Regions from separate parts of the Homo sapiens genome. Here region 2 is linked to region 1. The links come from fine-mapping of genetic effects on gene expression. A gene starts in region 1. The other region holds a variant in brackets. All regions are shown on one strand. Distances are from middle to middle. Region 1 holds the start of OR56B2 (olfactory receptor family 56 subfamily B member 2). Region 2 has its middle 3.6 kb from the start of OR52N1.

Region 1 (5,401 bases):
GTTAGCAATGATATATAAGAACTTATAACACAATCAATCAACCTAATCTGAAAAACACTTCTAGAACATGCTACTCAACAAGAGGAGAATACATTTTTTTTTTCAAGTGCTCACAGAACATAGCCCTAAATTGTACTGAACAATGAAAGAAACCCAAACTTTTAAAAATAATTTCAAGCATACAGAGTGTATTTTCCACATAAAATGAAGTAAAACTGGAAATAAATAAATATATTATTCATTTTATATATATAATATGTATATATAATGGTAGTATATATATAATATATATATATAATGGTAGTATATATATAATATATATATATAATGGTAGCATATATATGTAATGAAAATCTCCAAACAGTAGAAAACTAAACAGCACATTTCTAAATAATCTTTGGGTCAAAAAGGAAGTGTCAGGGATATTTTAAAAAATATATTGCCGGTCACAGTGGCCCATGCCTATAATCCCAGCACTTTGGGAGGCCGAGGCAGGTGGATCACCTGAGGTCAGAAGTTTGAGACCAGCCTAACTGACATGGTGAAACCCGCTACTAAAAATTAAAAAAAAAAAAAAATTAGCCGGGCATAGTGGCCCATGCCTGTAATCCCAGCTACTTGTGAGGCTGAGGCAGGAGAATCCCTTGAACCCGGGAGGCAGAGTTTGCAGTGATCCGAGATCATGCCACTGCACGTCAGCCGGGGCATCAGAGTAAGACTGTGTCTCAAAAAAAAATTATATTGAAGAAAAATGACAATTCAACATATCAAAATGTGTGGGACACTGCGAAAGTATTACCAAGAGGGAAATTCATACAATTAAATAATTATATTAGGAGAATTAAAAGTCTCAGATCAATAAGCTCAGCTACCACTTCAAGAGTATAGAAAAAATCAGACTATAAATCCAAAGCAAGTAGAAAAAAGAAAACAACAAAAATAAGAGTGAAATCAATAAAACTGAAAACAGAAAAATAATAGAAAAAATCAATAAGGCATGGAGCTGCTTCCCTGAAAAAAATCAACAAAATTTATAATTTCTCACAATACAGTCATCTGTCTGATTCATTTAGAGATATGAAAAAGCCTCGGAATTGTGTAGATAGGATCAATGGGAGCGTGAGAATTCCAAGTTCAGCTATAACATGTACTGTGTGATATCAGGCAAGTTTCTTAAAATTTATGTGCATCAGTTCCTTTATCTATAAGATGTAAAGATACTGGTGCCTAACACAATGGAGGTTATTATGAATGATAATTTTTAAAATATGTAAGACACAAGGAATGATTTCTGTCATATAAGAAGTACTATGTAAGTGTTTGCTATTTTTGTTATGAAATAGATAAAGTAGTTCTGAATCTAGCTTGCATTAAGGGAAAGTTTTCTGTTAATTGTGTGACATGGTTGGGGAAGGCGTGCTGTGTACACTATGCATATGCATTGATAAGCTTAGACTATGGAATATTATAAAATCATATGGATTTCTTATTTGCATATGTTTGTGTGAGGTTAGAAGAGGGGATAGGTAGGATGGAGTTGACAAATTGAATTCTTCTGCAAACTATTTCTAGGGTTACCCAGAGAGAATCAGGCTATTCTACAACCTATCAGAGAGCTAAGCACCTCATCTTCCCTTCCTTTTGTGTAATGAAGCTCAGACTACCTAAACTGAATACAAGAGGATGCAAGAATTTTAAGCCTCTATCCTATGGTTGTTCATCAATTACTTAATATTATTTGACCTCTAGATCTCACTACCTGAATTATTTTTGGAGTGCTTTCCTCAATATTGTACAAGTCCTAGAGATACAAATTGACAGAAAATCCCTCTGAAATTTCTGTATGTATAAAACTTAAAAATGTAGGAAGAGGTTTTGTATTGTGCTTTTCCTTAAAAAAAAAAAAAACAACTTTCCCAAAGCCTTCCTCAAAGAGAAAATTATCATAAAATTTAGATATTTAACACTTTTATGCCTATATTTAATAAAAGCTAGCTCTACCATACCCAAATTAAGATTTTTAGCAAAATGATGTGACTTGTTCCTAATTACATCCACGCCCTAGATTTGACTTGCTTCAGGCTAATTGGGTTTTACAACCCTAGGGAATAGACTTTTCCTCCACTTAAGCAGGTCCCTGAGTTTCTCTGCACTGGTCATAATATCCTAGTCCATCTTCAGTGGCTGTAAACCAGCTCTGGGTATACTGAAGATCACTACATATGACAAGTCTTTCACAGGACACCACAGTAAGTACATAGCTGGGGCCAGAGTCAGTCTTTTTAATCTTCGCGGAGATTTGGGAATGCCATATAGAAGGGTAAGCCTCAGCTATGATGGAGGCATCTACATAATGCTTCTTTAATGACTGTGTAGAAACCATGAAATACACTTCATGTCAAATTAATCTGAATATTGGAAAACTTTATGGAACCTAATACAACAAAATGTTAGATATTTCATAACCACTATGTCTTAATATGTAAAAATAAAAGTATATTACCACCAGCATTTTTAGAATGATATTTCTTGTTTATTTATTGTTTTGGCATATTTTATTTTATTAGATACTTTGGAGCTTTGTAATTCTTCACAAAATTTTTTCAAGCTCAATATTTAGCTTTTGTATTAGACACTGTAACTCTCCAGCTCCGTTGAGTTTTTATGCATATTCCTGCACATGTCTTTCTTAGCTTGCTGACACATAATACCTGGTACCAGTTTCATGGTATTAGGCATCAAAGGCCCTCATTTAAATTTACCACATAAATATTAATTATCCCATCTTGCAAGAATTTTAATTAGGCATTTTAATAGAATTGTTAACACACTCCAGAATCTAGAAATGAATTATTATATTTCATAGAATAGAATCAAGAATCCTAGAGGCTAAGACTTTTGTTGAAGTTCATAGGGCCACACAGAATTTCATTTTCACCCAAAGTATTAGAATTTTTGCTGAACTGTGAGAATAATATATTTACATGTGTGTCTTTCAATTGGAAATACTAGAATTGGAAAGACAGAGTCTCACATACACCTGCCAAGAAGTAATATTAATGTTTAGCAATCATCAATATATAAATATAATCCATTGTAAGAATAAATTGTACAGTTTTCTTCCAAGCAGTTTTTCATTATAAAAGATTTATCTTAAATTTTCCTGGTATTTCAAGCTAGATCATTGTATTTTCTAAGATAGATGCCACATGTATTTTTTTTCTTTACTAATCTATTGAACAGTGGACCCTTACTTCATTGAAGAAAAATAATTGATTTACTATACTCTCTAGCAATTTAAACAATTTTTCTCTGGAGGCCATGTCCAATACTATTTTATATTTGATTCATTTATCGTTTAATGCCCTTGCTAAATTTTTCTAAATATATGAATGTCATTTGTTTTTTATGGCTTTCGATAATTTTGCATGTTGTTTTATGAAATTTATGATATTCTTTGTTACTTCTCACTCATTACCCAAAGCATCACTGATATTCATGCATCTTCTTTATGTATTTATGATCGGTAATCTCTTATTTTTTGCAAGAGATTTACATTTAACTCCTTTGGTACAAATATACAGTTATATAGAATGAATAAAACCTAGTATCTGATAGATCAGTAGACTGACTAAAGTTAACAATAATCTATTGTACATTTCAAAATAGCTGGAAGAGAATAATTTAAATGTTCCTAGCATCAAAGTATCACATGTACACTGAACATCTGTACATTTATGTATTAATAAAAAAAGACAAAAACAAATAATTCAAGAAAAAATCTATATCACTGCCAGTTTTTGTTTACGTATTTATTTAAAGAAATATATTTAAATATACTTTACCATAACCATACTTTGTCATTTTCTACTAGAATTTCAAGTTTAGGTTATGTGTTTGGGATCAGGCTAGTCACAAATACTATATTATCCTGTTAATGTTTATTATAATGTTATTATCATTTCACAATTATTATTTTAACTGAATTACTAATTTTATATATGACATTGTTACATTGGTTTTCTTATCTAAGAATACCCGATTTATTCTGCTTTCAAATTTTGTATTAAAGTTTCTTTCAAAAATAGTACAGTTTTAAAAAATGTAACCTGAGTCTCTTTTTTAATTAGCAATTATAATCTATAAGAATCAGTATGTTTACAGATGCATATGAATTACCTCTTTCATGTTTTATAATATGTATAATTTTATTTTTAGTTTTCATCTTGTCTTGATGAGATATCCGCTATACTCTTCTACCCCTTGATTGTTTCAACATGATTCTCCTTTCAATCCCTGTCTCCTTCCATTACATTATATTTATTTATTAATTTATTTTTGAGACGGAGTTTCACTCTTGTTGCCCAGGCTGGAGTGCAGTGGTACCATCTCAGCTCACCGCAACCTCCGCCTCCTGGGTTTAAGCAATTCTCCTACCTCAGCCTCCTGAGTAACTGGGGCTACAGGCACACGCCACCATGCCCGGCTAATTTTTGTATTTTCAGTAGGGACGGAGTTTCACCATGTTGGCCAGGATGGTCTCAATCTCTTGACCTCCTGATCCGCCTGCCTGGCCTCCCAAAGTGCTGGGATTACAGGCGTGAGCCACTGCACCTGGCCTCCACTATATTTTTAACGTGCTTATATGTCAATAGCCCTAACCTCCTCATAAACAATACAAGACTCATGGACATAAAACTGCTTATTTCTGCTTCAGTATTCATTCACATAATATAAATTGAGTGCTTATTAAGTGTCTGTCTCTTGGGGAAAAACAGTGACATAAATAACAAATATCCCACGCCTTTAGGTTTCTATGGGAGATACGTATATCAACTCAATGACCTACACACTGATATATATTTTTCCTTCTTTGGGCAGTTAGACACAATACAGTATTCCCCAAGCCACATTTTAATTAAGCATTAAAATTTGTAGAAACAATTTCATCAATTAACCTTATTTTGTTACAAGTAGTATAAGATGTTATTACCTAAAGTGAATATATCGACCAAGTCAACATAACATTGCCTCCTCTGTAGACTCTATAATTTTAGCGCACAAATTTTAAAAATAATTTTTTGCCTTTATATTGTATCCTTAATATTTTAAATACTTAAAAGGAAAGAAGAAATAAATAGTGCAGAGTAGCACAAGTAAAACATTTCATGAAAATTTGTTCTGAATATTTTAATTCAAATATTAACAAAAGAATATAGAAAGGAGGTGTCAGATACAGAGAGATTAGATATTAGGAGGCCTTATGCCAAAGCATTGCTCTCAAAATCACTGATTTGCGTGCATGTCTATGTTTGTGTGTGCATGTGCGTGCATGTTTTTAACTTCTACGCCAGTCATCATGGCCATATGGCCATTAGAATACTCCAAAAACCAAAAATAT
Region 2 (5,401 bases), 33 kb after region 1:
TTTCTGAATTTTTTAAGGCCAAATAGTATTCCATTGTGTACATATTCCATATTTTTAAACCCATTCATTCATTGATGGACACATTTTGACTATTGCAAATAATACTGCAATGAACACGAGGTTGCAGACATCTCATTAACATATTGATTTCAATTTCTTTGAGCATATACCCAGTGAGACTGCTGGATCATATGGTAATTCCGTGTTTGATTTTTTGAGGAACCTCTATACTGTTTTCTAAAAGAACTATACTAATTTAAATTCCCAACAAGAGTGTATAATGGTTCACTTTTCTCAACATTTTCATCAACAGCTCTTATCTTTCATCCTTTTGATAATAGCCAATGTAACAGGTGTGAGGTAATGTCTTATTATGGTTTTAATTTGCAGTTCTCTAAAGATTAGTGATGTTGAGCATTTCCTCACATACTTTTTGGCCACTTGTATGTCTTCTTTTGAGACATTTTTATTCAAGTCCTTTCTCTACTTTTTATAGGGTTTTTTTTTTGGCAATTGAGTAGTTTGAATTCCTTGTTTATTTTGGATATTAGTCCTTATCCAGCATATGATTTGCAAATTTTTTTTCAATCTGAGAAGTTATCTCTCTATTGGTATTTTTGGCTATACAGAAGCATTTTAATATAATCCAATCTCAATTGTTTATTTTTGCTTTTGTTGCCTGGTGCTTTTGGGGTCACAGTCATTAAATCTTTGCCCAAACCAATGTCATGGAGCTTTTCTCCTATGTTTTCTTTTATTAATTTAATGTTTCAAGTTTTATATTTGAATCTTTAATTTATTTTGAGTTGATTCTTGTATAAGAGACAAGCTAAGGGTTCATTTATATTTTCTGTATGTGGATATCAATTTTTCCCAATACCATTTATTGAAGACAGGTCCTTTTCTTTTTAAATGTGTGGTTTGCTTCTGGGATCTCTAGCCCATTCCATTGGTCAATGTATCTGTTTTTATGCCAGTACCATGCTGTTCTGATTACTATAGCTTTGCAATATATTTTGAAATTCTGTAGTGTGGTGTCTCCAGCTTTATTCTTTTTGGTCAATATTGCTTTGACTAATTAAGGTCTTTTATAGTTCCATAGAAATTTTAAGATTTTTTTCCATTTCTGTGAAGAATGACATTGGAATTTTTATAGAGATTGCATTGAATCTGCAGATTGCTTTGGGCTTTATAGACATTTTAAGAATATTAATTCTTCCAGTCCATGAACACGAGATATCATTCCATTTATTTATGTCATCTTCAATTTCTCTTTTTTAACTTTTATTTTAGATTTGGTGGTACTTATATTTCTAATTTTATACTGTTACTATATTTTATTGATTGTCATAGCATTATAATACATTTTTAAATTAGTGTAAGCACTGTCAATTAGGTCCTTCTTTAAAAAGATTCTTTGGATATCCTTTGTCCTTTGCATTTCCATAGATAATTTAGAATTAATTGTGTAATTTCTACAAAAAGCTGTCTTGGATTTTTGTGAAGACAATATTGAACCTATAGATCAATTTGAGATTCCACAAACTGCACTCATAGGATGGCAAACTTAATTTATAAATGTTGTATGTATTCTCATTGCTACACTGGCCAGCCACTCTCCTGTCTCTCTCCCTCTTCTTGGGCCCCCCTATTCCTTCAGGCACAACAATATTGAAATTAGGCCAATAAATGACCCTGCAATGGTCACTAAGTGTATAGTGAAAGGAAGAGTCACATACCTCTCAATTTAAATTAAAAAATATATATATAAATGATTAAACTTAGTAAGAAAGGCATGACAAAAGCTGAGATAGACCAAAAGCCAGTCCTCTTATGCCAAACAGTTATCCAAGTTGTGAATGCAAAAGAAAAGTTATTGAAGGAAATTAAAGGGATACTGCAATGAACACATAAATGACAAGAAAGCAAAACAGCCTAATGGCTGATATAAAGAAAGTTTAAGTGGTCTAGACCAAACCAGCCACGATATTCCCTTAAGCCAAAACCTAATCTAGAGCAAGGCATCAACTATTTTAATTCTTTTAAGCCTGATAAATGTAAGGATGTTGCAGAAGAAAAGTTTAAGTTAGCAGAAGTTGGTTCATGAGGGAAAGAAGCCATCTCCATAACACGCAAGTGCAAGTGTTGATGTAGAACCTGCAGCAAGTTATCCAGAAGATCCCACGATCATTGATAAAAATGGATTCACTAAACAACAGATTTTCAATGTAGATGAAACAGCCTTCTCTCTCTCTCTCTCTCTCTCTCTCTCTCTCTCTCTATATATATATATATATATATATATATATTTATTTATTTATTTATTTATTTATTTTGAGACAGAGTTTCACCATTGTCACCCAGGCTGGAGGGCAGTGGCCCGATCTTGGCTCACTGCAACCTCTGCCTCCCCGGTTCAAGTGATTCTCCTGCCTCAGCCTCCCAAGTAGCTAGGATTACAGGCTCCCTTGCCACGTCTGGCTAACTTTTTGTGTTTTTAATAGAGACAGGGTTTCACCATGTTGGCTAGACTGGTCTCAAACTCCTGACCGCAAGTGATCCACTCACCTTGGCCTCCCAAAATGCTGGGATTACAGGCATGAGCCACCGTGTCTGGCTGAAACAGCCTTCTTTTGGAAGAGCATGTCATCATAGAGAGGATAAGTCAATGTCTGTCTTCAAAACTTCAAAGAACAGGCTGACTATCTTGTTAGGGGCTAATGCAGCTGGTGACTTTAAGTTGAAACCAATGCTCATTTACCAATCCCCAAATCCTAGGGCCCTTAATAATTATTCTAACTCTATGTTGTCTTTGCTCTCTA[T/C]ATAGAACATCAAAGCCTGGATGACAGTACATACGTTTAGAGCATGGTTTATTGAATATTTTAAGCCCACTGTTGAAACCTACTGCTCAAGAAAAATGGATTCCTTTCAAAATATTCCTGCTCATTGACAATGTGCCTGGCAACTCAAGAGCTGTAATGGAAATGTACAGGGAGATTAATTTATTTTCAAGGCTGCTCATACAACATCCATTCTGCAGCACATGGAACAAGAAGCAATTGTGACTTTCAAGTCTTATTTATTTAAGAAATACATTTTGTAAGACTATAGCTGCCATAGATGGTAATTGTTCTGATGTGCATGTGTAAAGTCAATTGAAAACCTTCTAGAAAGGATTCACCATATTAGATACCATTAACAACATTTATAATTCATGGGATGAGGTCAAAATATCAACATTAATAGGGGTTAGAAATAAGTTAGTTCTAACCCTTATAAATGGCTTCGATGGAGTCAAGACTTTACTGGAGGAAATCACTAAAGATGTGATGTAAATAGCAAAAGAAATAGAATTGAAAACGAAACCTGATAATGTGACTGAATTGCTGCAATCTCATGATAAAACATGAATAATGTGGAGTTGATTTTTGTGGATGAGCAAAGAAAATGGTTCCTTGAGATGGAATCTACTCTTGGTGAAGATGTTGTGAACATCGTTGAAATGACAACAAAGGATTTTGAATATTACCTGGATTTAGTTGAGAAAGCAGTAGTATGGTTTGAGAGGATTAACTCTGAAAGCTGCTTCACTGTGGGTAAAATGCTATCAAATAGCATTACATACCACAGGCAAATCTTTCATGAAAGTAAAAGTCAATCAATGGGGCAACATTTATTGTCCTATTTTAAGAAATTGCCACAATCACTCCAAACTTCAGCAACCACCACCCTAAGTAGTCAACAGCAGTCAAAGACTCTCCACCAGCAAAAAGATTATGGCTCACGGAAGGCTCAGATAATCGCTAGCGTTTTTTAGCAATAGCATATTTTTAAAAAGGTCTATATATTTTTTAGGCATAATGCTATTGTATACTTAATAGACCATGGTATAGTGTAAACATACATTTTATGTGCACTGAGAAACCCAAAATTCATGTGACTCACGTTATTGCAGTGGTCTGAAACCAAATCTGTGCTATGTCTAAGGTATGCCTGTATTATAACCAGATAAATAGACTTCATTTTAATTTCTCACACCTATTCATAAGTATATTATTATATATGCATAGCATTTATAAGCAGATATACCTGCTTAATACAGTTTTAATTCAGAAAACAAACAAAAAGCAAAAAAAAAAACCGAAGTAAGGATATTTTTCAAAGATTTTCTGACTTGAGGAACTTTGTAGCAGAGTCTAGGACTTGAAGCATTACCTAGCATCTGATAGCTTACTATTTATTTAAGTATTATTTTAAAAATGCTATTAATATTGTAACTCAGCAAGTTTTAAAAGGAAAGCTGACATCTATGTTTTTCATTTATTAGCTATCTGCTCTGGAATAAAGCTACACACCACCATATTGTTAATAATTGAAGACTCACTCTGGGCTGAAGCTCTATGGCATAGAGCTTATTTTATGTGTTTCGGTAAGCGAGCTGGCTCACTGAAAAAGAAAAAAGGACCTACATTTGTGGGGATTCTGTCCATCGTAGCTGCTTGTGCTAGAAGAAAGATGTGCCATTACATCATATTACTGTTTACCGTTTTCTCCTCTCCATAGACTGCATTCATTCTACAAACCCAAGGTATTAAATTGTGGTCACGATGTTCTTTGATTCCTTTCCAGACATCTGTCTACTTTGAGGATAATTTCAATCCCAGCCTTTGATGTTTCCTTAAACTTGATCAAGATGTACTAACGGGGATTGCAACAGAAAAGAATGCTATATTTCTACTGAAGTAAAGGGGAACAGTGATGGAGAGACAGTGCATTTAACAGTGTTAACCTTTCAAATAAAGACATAACTCAGCCTTATTGCAGAATATATATTTTAATGAGCCCCTAGCATAAAACATTCTGAAATTGTTTACTCAATATTTTTGAGAAAGCTTTAAAATACCCACATGGCACATGAATAAATATATAAAATGTTATGAAACTGGAATGGAACTGCCCTAGGGAGTCAGGTAAAATTCCAGGTTTATGATTCAATAGATGCTAGACACTTCACATGTCCCATCAATAATAAAATTTGAGATTTTTTTCTGTCAGGCATAGACATATTCTAATTATAGATCTATTTTCAACAAAGGTAAATTCACCTCCTTTTCAGAGACCTATGGGACATCTATCTGTAAAGCCCCAAAGAATTTTTTTACCTTGGCTTGGAAAATCCCCAGAGAAGATATTAAGTTTGTTACATAGGGTTCCTCATCAATATTGTGCAATTATTTCTAAGTAATATCAGTCATGAATGGGAATTTAAAAACATCTGGCACCAGGGTGAGTTTGGATGAAAATGGTTCAGATAAAAAGAAAACAAATATATAAAATGCACAAAATTGCTACTATATAGGAGGGATTTAAATGAGAGAGCAGTTGAATAAGGAAGTTCTGA

The links.
Region 2: its variant is fine-mapped to the expression of OR56B2 in blood mononuclear cells (TOPMed, PIP 0.99).

Annotation. Positions count from the first base shown.
Region 1 is chr11:5,758,991-5,764,391 of GRCh38, forward strand. It overlaps OR56B2 (olfactory receptor family 56 subfamily B member 2), which reads left to right and starts at 2,163. Exons shown (of 2, transcript NM_001396057.1): 1 at 2,163-2,249. The coding sequence starts at 2,249.
Region 2 is chr11:5,792,147-5,797,547 of GRCh38, forward strand. No RefSeq gene overlaps it. Among named protein-coding and RNA genes, the nearest start is that of OR52N1, 3.6 kb to the left of the region's middle. The variant T/C (reference allele first, on the strand shown) is at 2,823.